Linked DNA regions of Homo sapiens. The protein of the gene in region 1 interacts with the protein of each later gene in a pairwise test. Each region holds a gene or a part of one and is shown on either strand. Other genes may lie near its edges.

Region 1 (4,395 bases):
TTGCCTCCCTCAAACTTGTCACTTTCCTTCCTTTGCTGTCCTTCTACTCACTTAGCAAATAGATGGTGAGTACCTGTCATAGCCCAGGCTCTGTACCAGGCCCTAGGGATATAGCATTGAACTAGACTGATGTAGTCTTGACCATGTGGAACTTATGTTTTAGTGAGGACAACTGACAACAAACAGAAAATGATGAAAATAACCCTATAGGGCCAGGCGCAGTGGCTTGCGCCTGTAATCCCAGCACTTTGGGAAGCCGAGGCTGGAGGATCACTTGAGCTCAGGAGTTTGACACCAGCCTGGGCAACATGGCGAAATCCCATCTCTACTAAAAATACAAAAATTAACCAGGCTTGGTGTTGTGCACCTGTAGTCCCAGCTACTGGGGGCAATAACCCTACAAATGACTCTGTAACTCTTATTAGGGGCAGTAGAAAATGGTGTACTCTCTGGCTCTTACTGCCACTTGCTACCTGCAAGATCTTGGGCAAATCACTCTCTTTGCTAAAGTGTACCCATCTATAAAATGGAATGACAATAGTATCTACCTCAGGATTGTTAGAATTGAATGAGTTAATGTATATAAAGTACTTAGAATAGTGCTTGGCACATACGAAGTGCCCAGCAAATGTTAGCTGGTTGTTGTTACCGCCAATACCACCCTGTTCCAAGCATCAGGGCCACCAGTAATCCATAGGGCACATCTGTGCAAGTTAGAAAAAGGTGCCCCTTCCTCAGGGTGGACACCGTCACAGGATGCTTGGCTTAATAAGAAGAGCACAAGCTGGACCTTTGGCCTGGTTGGCTCTTGGTTGGATGCCCTTGAGCAGTGGATGACTGTACTTAGTAAGCTCAGACCCTGCCCCCTAGGAGTTGGTAGCTCATGGGGGAACAAAATGGCTCTCCTATGGAGAGTTAATTACTTAACAATATAACGAATAAGCTGGTCCAGGTGGGAAGGACTTTAGGCGCTCAGGGAAGGGAAGAGTCACCGTGCCTGAAGCAGTCAGGGTGGACCAAACGGAAGACGTGAGACGAGATAAGTGATGGTCATATGGCCAGGGAGGAAGGGGACGTGTGTCAATCTGGGGGACAGCTTGAACAAGAATGTGGAGGCAGGATGGACACCCTGGGAATAGGTATTCTAGAGGCCCAGCCTTGGGTGGAGTGGAGGTCTTGGCTGCTGTGCCCCTGGCTTGAAGTCCACTGTCCAGCCCGTGCCCACTCCCCAGGTGGTGTGTCCGGTGGTCTACTGCAGCATTGTGTACTGGATGACGGGCCAGCCCGCTGAGACCAGCCGCTTCCTGCTCTTCTCAGCCCTGGCCACCGCCACCGCCTTGGTGGCCCAATCTTTGGGGCTGCTGATCGGAGCTGCTTCCAACTCCCTACAGGTGGGAGGGCTGGCAGTTGGGAATTCCCAAGGCGGGATGAGGTCTTGTGGGAGGAAGCAGGGCCTGGTGCAAGGGTTAGGGTGGAGCTCTAGGAAACCTGGGTTTGTCCTGGTCACCCCTATGATGGCCTGGCCCCCTCCCTTCCCCTCTAGGTGGCCACTTTTGTGGGCCCAGTTACCGCCATCCCTGTCCTCTTGTTCTCCGGCTTCTTTGTCAGCTTCAAGACCATCCCCACTTACCTGCAATGGAGCTCCTATCTCTCCTATGTCAGGTCAGTACCCCTGCCCTCCTCGTTGGCCTCTGCTCCTCCCTGGAGGAGTCCATACCCAGGGCTTCCTGGGTTGTGCCAAGTCTGCTGCCTGCCCCATTATCCTTTGGGCAGGGGCACCCTGGCTGCACCCCAGGGATGACAGCATTGCAGCTGGGCTCTGGCAGTTTTCTCAGAGAGCAGGGACCCTGTGTGCTGTATCCCATCTGATATCCCTGCCTGCCTAGGTATGGCTTTGAGGGTGTGATCCTGACGATCTATGGCATGGAGCGAGGAGACCTGACATGTTTAGAGGAACGCTGCCCGTTCCGGGAGCCACAGAGCATCCTCCGAGCGCTGGATGTGGAGGATGCCAAGCTCTACATGGACTTCCTGGTCTTGGGCATCTTCTTCCTAGCCCTGCGGCTGCTGGCCTACCTTGTGCTGCGTTACCGGGTCAAGTCAGAGAGATAGAGGCTTGCCCCAGCCTGTACCCCAGCCCCTGCAGCAGGAAGCCCCCAGTCCCAGCCCTTTGGGACTGTTTTAACCTTATAGACTTGGGCACTGGTTCCTGGCGGGGCTATCCTCTCCTCCCTTGGCTCCTCCACAGGCTGGCTGTCGGACTGCGCTCCCAGCCTGGGCTCTGGGAGTGGGGGCTCCAGCCCTCCCCACTATGCCCAGGAGTCTTCCCAAGTTGATGCGGTTTGTAGCTTCCTCCCTACTCTCTCCAACACCTGCATGCAAAGACTACTGGGAGGCTGCTGCCTCCTTCCTGCCCATGGCACCCTCCTCTGCTGTCTGCCTGGGAGCCCTAGGCTCTCTAGGGCCCCACTTACAACTGACCAAAGTGGCCCCCTCTGGGGGTCCCCACCACACAAGTGTTTGTAAACTGGGCTGCTATAAGGTTGGAGTTCCAGGGCTGGGCCCTGGTGGAGTCCACTGGAAGTCCCATTATGGATGTTGAAATGGACAGGGAAGGACTCTGGAAGTCTCTTCCTCCTCCTCCTCTTCTCTCCACCCCTAGACCCTGGCTGACTTGGACAATCTGCCAGGACAGAAGCTGGGTTTTCTGTCTAGGTCACCACTCCCAATCCTGGGGATTGGAGAGGCCTGGGGCTGTGGGATGCCCCATCCCCCTCCCCATCACCTTTGGTGGGGGCAGGGCCTGGTGGCACCTGTGCAATAATGTCTGTGTTTCTCTCCCACCTGCCACTGGAACTGGAGAATGCACTTTATTCTGGGCGGGGGGTGAGTGGGGGAAGACCCAACCCTCCTTTCTCGCTGCCCCTAACGCATGCACGGTCTCGTGATGCTCCCTCCCTCTCCGGAGTGACAGGCACATACATGAGAACAGGCCATCTCAGCCCTACACACTTGCCATCCCCTACAGCACAGAGGAAGAGTGATGGTGGCATGCTGGTGGTGGCGGGTGCTGGTGGGAGGACAGTGCCAACCTCCTCCTGGGGATCCCATGTTGGAGACTCTAAGGATAAGGCTGGTGCTGCCCAGGGTGTCTACAGGAACTGCAGGTGTCTACCCCCAAGTCTTCCCTCCTCCCAAGCCAGGGGTGGCACAGGGCACTAGATCCCTGGAGTTCAGGAACCAACACAAGCACAACCACGGGCATAAGTTGGCCTTGGCCACTGCCACCCACGGCCCTCCTTTTGTGCTCCATGCTGGCATCTTCACTCCCCTACCCCTTCCCCAGCCACTGCTGCTCATTCAAACTTCTGTCCATGTCCCTCCACTGTTCCTATCAGCAGGTGGCCCCTGGGCATCAGAACAGCCTGCCCTGGGCACCAGGTGGCAGACACACTCAGAGCATGTCTGGCTTTCCTGGTGGGTCCAGGCTCATTCTGCTTCTGATTTCCCCTCCCCCAGGGCTCATTTTCCCCCTTTTTCCTGTACACATCCCTGTCTACCTCCTCTCACCCTGCCACAGATTCTTCCTATCACACAGGGATGCCAGTTGTATTTGTGGGATTTCACCCATTATTAATAAAACCTATATTTATACAGTATGCAATGTGTAAATGTGTGTGGATCTGCCACCTGGTACTGTGCCCTGCAAGGGGGCCTTCAAAGCATTTGGCATGAGGCCTGTCAGCTGTAGGGAGTCTGTGGCAGGGGATGGTAGGTCCCAGGTACATGTCAAGCTAGTGAACATGTAGCTTAAGAAATATTTGTGTCACCGGGCATGGTGGCTCACGCCTGTAATCCCAGCACTTCGGGAGGCCGAGGCGGGCGAATCACGAGGTCAGGAGATCGAGACAATCTTGGCTAACACGATGAAACCCCATCTCTACTAAAAATACAAAAAATTAGCCGGGCGTGGTGGCGGGTGCCTGTAGTCCCAGCTACTCGGGAGGCTGAGGCAGGAAAATGGCATGAACCCGGGAGGCGGAGGTTGCAGTGAGCCGAGATCGTGCCACTGCACTCCAGCCTGGGCGACAGAGCGAGACTCCGTCTCAAAAAAAAAAAAAAAAAAAAAAGAAATATTTGCATCATGCTGTCCATCTCACAGAGGCTTCACATTCATTATCTCAAGGGAGTCTCATGCTGACCCTGCACCATCCTTCATGACAACCCGTTTTGTAGATGAGAGAACTGAGACTTGGGTTAAGTAACCTACCCAAGGGCCCTCAACGAATGGAGGAGGAGCCAGGCCTGGAGACCAGGTCTTCTGCCTCCAAAGTCCTCTTTCTTGGCATCGGTCAATGGCACTTGTTCATGGTGGACCCACATGCTGTGTGGGGG
Region 2 (7,293 bases), on another chromosome or scaffold:
TTTTTATGATCATATGGTGTCGTAGGCTCTAAAGAGTAATTTTTTATTTTTATTTTTTGAGATAGAGTTTTGCTCTTGTTTTTTTGTTGTTGTTGTTTTTGTTTTTTTTGGTTTTTTTTGAGACGGAGTCTCAGTCTGTCGCCCAGGCTGGCGTGCAGTGGCGCAATCTCAGCTCACTGCAAGCTCCGCTTCCCGGGGTTCACGCCATTCTCCTGCTTCAGCCTCCCGAGTAGCTGGGACTACAGGCGCCCGCCACTGCGCCCGGCTAATTTTTTTGTATTTTAGTAGAGACGGGGTTTCGCCGTGGTCTCGATCTCCTGACCTCGTGATCCGCCTGCCTCGGCCTTGCAAAGTGCTGGAATTACAGGTGTGAGCCACCGCGCCTGGCCTTGCTCTTGTTTTAGTAGAGACGGGGTTTCTCCATGTTGGTCAAGCTGGTCTTGAACTCCCGACCTCAGATGATCTGTCTGCCTCGGCCTCCCAAAGTGTTGGGATTACAGGCATGAGCCACCGCACCAAGCCATTTTTTCTTAAGCTTTAAGATTTATTTATTTTCGAGACAGGGTCTCACTCTGTCTCCCAGGCTGGAGTACAGTGGTGAAATCACTGCTCATTGCAACCTCGACCTCCCGGGCTCAGGTGATCCTCCCACCTCAGCCTCCGGAGTAGCCTGGACCACGGATGAAGGCCACCACACCGGGCTAATTTTTGTTTTTTTTTTTGTTTGTTTTTTTTGTAGAGATGAGGTCTCTCCATGTTGCCCAGGCTGGTCTCCTACTCCTGGGCTCAAGTGATTCACTGGCCTTGGCCTCCCAAGGTCCTGAGATTACAGGCTATTGCACCTGGCCAAAAAGCTTTGAGTTTTTAGTCTATGAAGAAAATATCTTAAATACATTGAGCTGAGGGTAAAAAGAAAGGCATATGTACTCATGCTAGCCATTAAAAATGTTATTAATCGAGTATGGATCTGTCTGTAACCTGATAAAAGTAATTTGACTAGCCTAAAATTGTTACTTTAAAATAATTGCCAGAAGATGTCAGTTGCCAGAGCTAACTGAGTCAGGGTTTGGTGTGGGGATAGGAAAGGAAAGGGGGTTACTTTTAAAATCTTCTAGGCTACTTGTCAGAATTTGGTTAATATAATTTTATTGTAAATATCTGCTCAGATGATAAAAACTGTTTTTGAAGTTTTGGCGTTATTTTGTTATACCTTTGCCCTTGATAATATCTAGAGCCAAATTCAATTAGATAAATTGTAATCTGGTGTTTAAATTAAATTTAAAATCACACCTGAAACCATATTTAGACTGCACTGGAATTCATCAAAAGCAGAACCTCAGAGCTGTTATTTCACACCAAGAAGATAGCTAAAATTCTGTGAACAATAGTTGTTCTCCATATTAATTTGAATGCTTTTTTCTTGATTTTGGGGAATATTTCTCTGGAAGTTTATCATATATCAACAGGACACTTCTGTCAGTTGGAATTGGAGTCACTTTTTTCCTTTCCCCCTCCATGAGATAACTGGTTTCTAGTTCACCAAATTAGATTACAAGGCTTTATTATGATAAAAATTAAATAATGATTGAAGTAGGCTTAGAGAAAAGTTATGTTAATAAATATAAATTGCTCTCAGATTTAAGGGTACCTAATCAGTTATTAGGCCATGTGCAAATTACATGTGGGAAAAAGCTAGAACATTTTTGAAATGTATTAAAAGGGATCTCCTCACTTAAATACCTTGCTTTTAGCCAGTGAGATACAGAATTGCTATGATTTCTCATTGGTATCACCTTTGTTTTAGTTTTTTACAGGCTGGTGGATTATCATAGATGCAGCTGTTATTTATCCCACCATGAAAGATTTCAACCACTCATACCATGCCTGTGGTGTTATAGCAACCATAGCCTTCCTAATGTAAGTGTCATCGTAATTGGCATTACTTACATAGCTTGCCACAAAATAAAAATGTTTCAAATATAGTTGCATAGATTTAAAATTCTAAATATTATCAGATTAACACACTGGACATGATTTAAAAGTCACACAGTAGAGATGGACTTATACAGAAAAGCAGCAGTCCTCTTTATTCTTTTTGTGTACCTCTCCACTCCCTCCCAGCTTCTCTCAGCTATTCTTTTATTTTATACCCCCAGGGTTTATAGCTTTATATTTAAGTCCGAAACTGTGTATTTTGTCTAAGGGATAATTCTTTCAACAATATTTATTAAGCTTTTATATTCCAGACTCTGCTCTAGGTACAGGACATATAGTAGTTAGTAAAACAGGAAAAATCCATGTCTTTTTGTCATTTAAAATAAGTGCAAAGGAGAAAAAATAGAGAAAGGAGATATGTGCAAATAAGTGCAAAGGAGAAAGGGATGTCAATAGGAGGGATAGAAATTAAAAAATTTTTTTTTTTATAGAGAGGGTGTCTCATTATGTTGCTCAGGTTGGTCTCCTGGGCTCAAGTGATCCTCCCACCTCGACCTCCCAAAGTGCCAGGATTACAGGTGTGAGCCACCACACGTGGCCAGAAATTTTCAGCAGAGTCAGAGAAGGTCTCACTAAGAAGGTGACTTTGAGTAAAGACTTGAAGAAAGTGAAGGAGCTGACCAGGGGATGGGGATATATAAGAGAGGTTCATTCCAGGCAGGTGAAACAGCAAGTACAAAGGCTTTACGGCAAGGAGACCAGTATAACTGCAGTAGCAAGATCAAGGGAAAGAGAAATTGATGAGGTCAAAGAAGTGGTGGAGAGGGACAGATGGTATAGGGCCTTGAGAAGCATTATAAGAACTTTACTTTCAGCTGGATGCAGTGACTCATGCCTGTAATTCCAGCACTTTGGGATACCGAGGTGGGTGGATCACTTGAGCTCAGGAATTTGAGACCAGCCTGGGCAACATGGTGAAACCTCATCTCTACCAAAATACAAAAATTGGTAGGGCATGCCTGTGGTCCCAGCTGCTCCGGAGGCTGAGGCGGGAGGATTGCCAGAGCCTGGGAAGTCAAGTCGATGTTACAGTGAGTCATGATTGTGCCACTGCACTTCAGTCTGGGTAACAGAGCAAGACCCCATCACAAAAATAAGAACTTTACTTTCATTGTAAGTGTAATGGAAGCCATTGGAAGGTTTCGAGCAGAGGAATGAAATGACCTTATATTTTAATAGGAGCATTCCTGTTGAAAAATTTTTAAAACCGGTAAACAAAATTTATTGCAGTGCCAAATAGTATAAGCACCATGACTCTGTGCTTCTCAAATTTATCAATGTATTTTGAAAATATTCTTGTATTCTTACCAGTTTCTCAAATTCATAAAATCGTTTAGTTTGCTTCATACTTGGGCTGTGACTTTGTTATTTAGTATTGTTTTTTCCTATAGTTTTTTTTTTCTTCTTTAATTAAGACGAGGTCTCACCTTGTTTGCCAGGCTGGTCTTGAACTCCTGGGCTCAAGCGATCCACCTGCCTTGGCCTCTCAAAGTGCTAGGATTATAGGTGTGAGCCACTGTGCCCGACCTTTCCTAGAGTTTCTGATTGTTTTTTTTTGTTTTTTGTTTTTTGTTTTTTTTTGGTGGTTGTTGGTAGAAAGAATGTATATTTTCTTTAGGATTCATTTTATTCTTCTTGAATGCTGCAGTTCTAATTTGGACAGTTACTATGTGGAATGTAGTAGCCTTGTTCAGTTTTTTGTTTTTCCTAGAGTTTCTAGCTGCCTTTTCTTTGTTTTCTTGCATTTTCTACTATTATCACATCTTTATTTTTTTCCCAAATTCTCAATTATATTCTTTAATGTATTATAACTTCTTTTGTTTTAGAAATCAACATCCCAGAAGCCCGTATCTGTCTGTTTCATTATGAATTAATGACTGTGTAAGCCTGCTGCAGCACTGTCACCATGGGACTTCCCTCCCCTGTTGATCAGGGTTGAATCCACTGTTTTTCCAGTTACCACATCTTCTTTTTTTTTTTTTTTTTTTTGGATACAAGAAGTATTTACTTTGGCCGGGCATGGTGGCTCACGCCTGTAATCCCAACACTTTGGGAGGCCAAGGCGGGCAGACCACCTGAGGTGAGGAATTTGAGACCAGCCTGGCCAACGTGGTGAAACCCCATCTCTACTAAAAATAATTTAAAAAGGCTGGGCGCAATGGCTCACGCCTGTAATCCCAGCACTTTGGGAGGCCGAGGCAGGCAGATCACGAAGTCAGGAGATCGAGACCATCCTGGCTAACACAGTGAAACCCTGTCTCTACTAAAAATACAAAACATTAGCCGGCTATAGTGGCACGTGACTGTGGTCCCAGCTACTCGGGAGGCTGAGGCAGGAGAATCGCTTGAACCCAGGAGGCGGAGGTTGCAGTGAGCAGAGATCATGCCACTACACTCCAGCCTGGGCGACAGAGTGAGACTCTGTCTCAAAAACTAAAAAATAAATTAGCCAGGCACGGTGTTGCGTGCCTGTAGTCCCAGCTACTCGGGAGCCTGAGGCACAAGAATCACTTGAACCTGGGCAGCAGAGGTTGCTGTGAGCCGAGATCACACCACTGCACTCCAGCCTGGGCGACAGAGGGAGACTCCGTCTCAATAAATTTAAAAGAAAAAAGTATTTATTTTAGTTTGTTTATTTATTTATTTTTTTTTTTGAGATGGAGTTTTGCTCTGTCGCCCAGGCTGGAGTGCAATGGCATGATCTCTGCTCACTGCAACCTCCACCTCCCAGGCTCAATTGATTCTCCTGCATCAGCCTCCCCAAGTAGCTGGGATTACAGGCACACACCACCATGCCTGGCTGGTGTTTGTATTTTCTGTAGAGACGGGTTTCACCATGTTGGCCAGGCTGGTCTTGAACTCCTGACCTCAAGTGATCCACCTGTCTCGGCCTCCCAAAGTGCTGGGATTACAGGCGTGAGCCACCACACCCGGCCGATATGTTTTCTTAGAATTCTCATCTCTTTATCTTTTTATTTTATGTTCCAATCTGTTAAACATTTTTGCATTTCAGTTCTCATGTTTTAATTTCTAAGGGCCTTTGTTTCCTTAATTATGAATGCTTCCTTTAGGGATCAACTCTCTCTGTGGGCCTTTCTTTTTTTTCTTTTCTTTTCTTTTCATGTTAGACGTGTAAGGTGCTGATGTAAGAACAAGGTTTGAGGGAGGCACATCTCAAACATGCACATGAACACCCAATCATCGTGCCTAAGAACTACAAAAGAATCAGGTTTTCCTTTTAAATTAAAAAAAAAATGTTTTAGAAGTAGGGCCTCGCTTGTCACCCAGGCTGGAGTGCAAATGGTGTGATCATAACACACTACTGTCTCAAAATCCTGGGCTTAAGCAGTCCTCTGGCCTCAGCCTCCCCAGTAGCTAGGACTACTTGCACATACCACCACACCCAGCTATTTTTTAAACAGTTTTTTTGTAAAGACAGGATCTCACTATGTTGCCCAGGCTGTTCTTGAACTCCTGGTCTCAAGTGATTCTCCTGCCTTGGCCTCCGAGAGTGCTGCATGATAGGTGTGAGTCACTGTGCTCTCTGCCTTTATTATTTTAAAAATGTAATATAAAATGCATTCTGGCCAGGCATGGTGGCTCACACTTGTAATCCCAGCACTTTGGGAGGCCAAAGTGGGCGGATCACTTGAGGTCAGGAGTTCAAGACCAGCCTGGCCAACATGGTGAAACCCTGTCTCTACAAAAAAATACAAAAATCAGCCGGGCATGGTGGTGCATGCCTGTGGTCCCAGCTACTGAGGAGGCTGAGGTGGGGAATCACTTGAATCTGAGAGGCAGAGATTACAGTGAGCCAAGATCACGGCACTGGATTCCAGCCCAGGAGACAGAGTGAGACTCTGTCTCAAAACAAACAAACAAACAAAAAACGCATTTAGTGAGATACATAAAGTGCACAAGTCATATATACATCTCAACAAATTTTTCTTATATATACACCCATGTAAACAGCATCTAGATCAAGATTTAAAACATCACCCCAGAACATTCTCAATCAGCACTTCCATCACACCTGTATAGCCCCCATCCTGACCTCTACCATTGTCCATCAGCTTTCTGTAGACCTTTTTTTTTTTCTTTTGAGATAGGCTCTTGCTCTGTTGCCCAGGCTGGAGTGCAGTGGCATGATCTCGGTTCACTGCAACCTCTGCCTCCTGAATTCAAGCAATTTTCCTGCCTCAGCCTCCTGAGTAACTGGGATTACAGACGCCCACCACTGTGCCCAGCTAATTTTTGTATTTTTAGTAGAGGAAGGGTTTCACCATGTTGGCCAGGCTGGTCTCGAACTCCTGACCTCTCAGGTGATCCACCTGCCTTGGCCTCCCAAAGTGCTGGGATGACAAGCGTGAGCCACCATGCCCGGCCTTCTGTAGACTTTTAATTTAGGTTGTAGAGTCATCTCATACAGGCTTCCAGGTAATCCAAGTTGAAAATTACACACATTTTTAAATTTTGCTACAGTTACTTAAGTGTAAACACAGTAACTTGTATTTTCAGAGTAAAGCAAGTGGCTAAGGGCAGCCAGTTTGACTGTGCCTGGCATGGAGTCAGTGCCAGAGTAGTTATTCATTCGCAGAAGTAAAGGTCTGACTTCAGAAGCCACTGATAGCAAAGGGCTGTGGTCTTTTTCTTTGAAGTTCAGCCAGTATGCAGCTATTTCTAGTTCTTTCCATCTTGTTGCAATTTATTTTACCGTAATAATGATGCTGTTAGAATTCTTTTAGAAAGCTGACACCTAAATTTCAACATTGGTTTAGATTTAAAAGTTTTATTTTTGTGATTGTATTTTTGTCCTGCTTTTGTTCTCAGATCTTTAAAAAATTATTTTGTTCCATTTTGAAGCAGTAGCAAGTCTGACTATGGAGGGGAATTATAGCTGTATATGAGCTTGAATGTACTATTCAAACGTGTTTCCTGCTAAACTTACATTCTGTTGCATTAACATAATTATAGCAGAGCTGACTTCATGTCTTTATAAATGTTTATCATCTATTTGGCTTCAGTTTACATCTTTTTATTATAGTGTCAGATAGTGTCAGGCCATAATTTTAAACAAAAACTGTTAGTTAATTATAATTCAAATGGATAGGAGTCAAAAAGCAGCTATTCTTTCATTAATGACTTTATTATTTTTTCTCTTATTACAAAAGTTCTCTGATTTTGTGGCTTTAAAAATATTAATAAATGTTCTGTGTATTACTCTGTATTTTTTAATTTTAAAAATGTAGGGTAGGCCGGGCACGGTGGCTCACGCCTGTAATCCCAGCACTTTGGGAG

Evidence for each region.
Region 2: the proteins of ABCG4 (region 1) and TMEM50A interact in binary tests that used the Homo sapiens proteins (3 or more experiments, as listed by UniProt).

Annotation. Positions count from the first base shown.
Region 1 is NC_000011.10:119,158,995-119,163,389, forward strand, and holds the end of ABCG4 (ATP-binding cassette sub-family G member 4), read left to right. Parts: intron 1-1,232; coding exon 1,233-1,391; intron 1,392-1,543; coding exon 1,544-1,662; intron 1,663-1,886; coding exon 1,887-2,112; 3' UTR 2,113-3,659; downstream 3,660-4,395. UniProt on the Homo sapiens protein: ATP-dependent transporter of the ATP-binding cassette (ABC) family that may be involved in the cellular efflux of sterols, in particular cholesterol and desmosterol (a cholesterol precursor), to high-density lipoprotein (HDL).
Region 2 is NC_000001.11:25,341,157-25,348,449, forward strand, and holds part of TMEM50A (transmembrane protein 50A), read left to right. Parts: intron 1-1,804; coding exon 1,805-1,917; intron 1,918-5,117; exon of another isoform or gene 5,118-5,221; intron 5,222-7,293.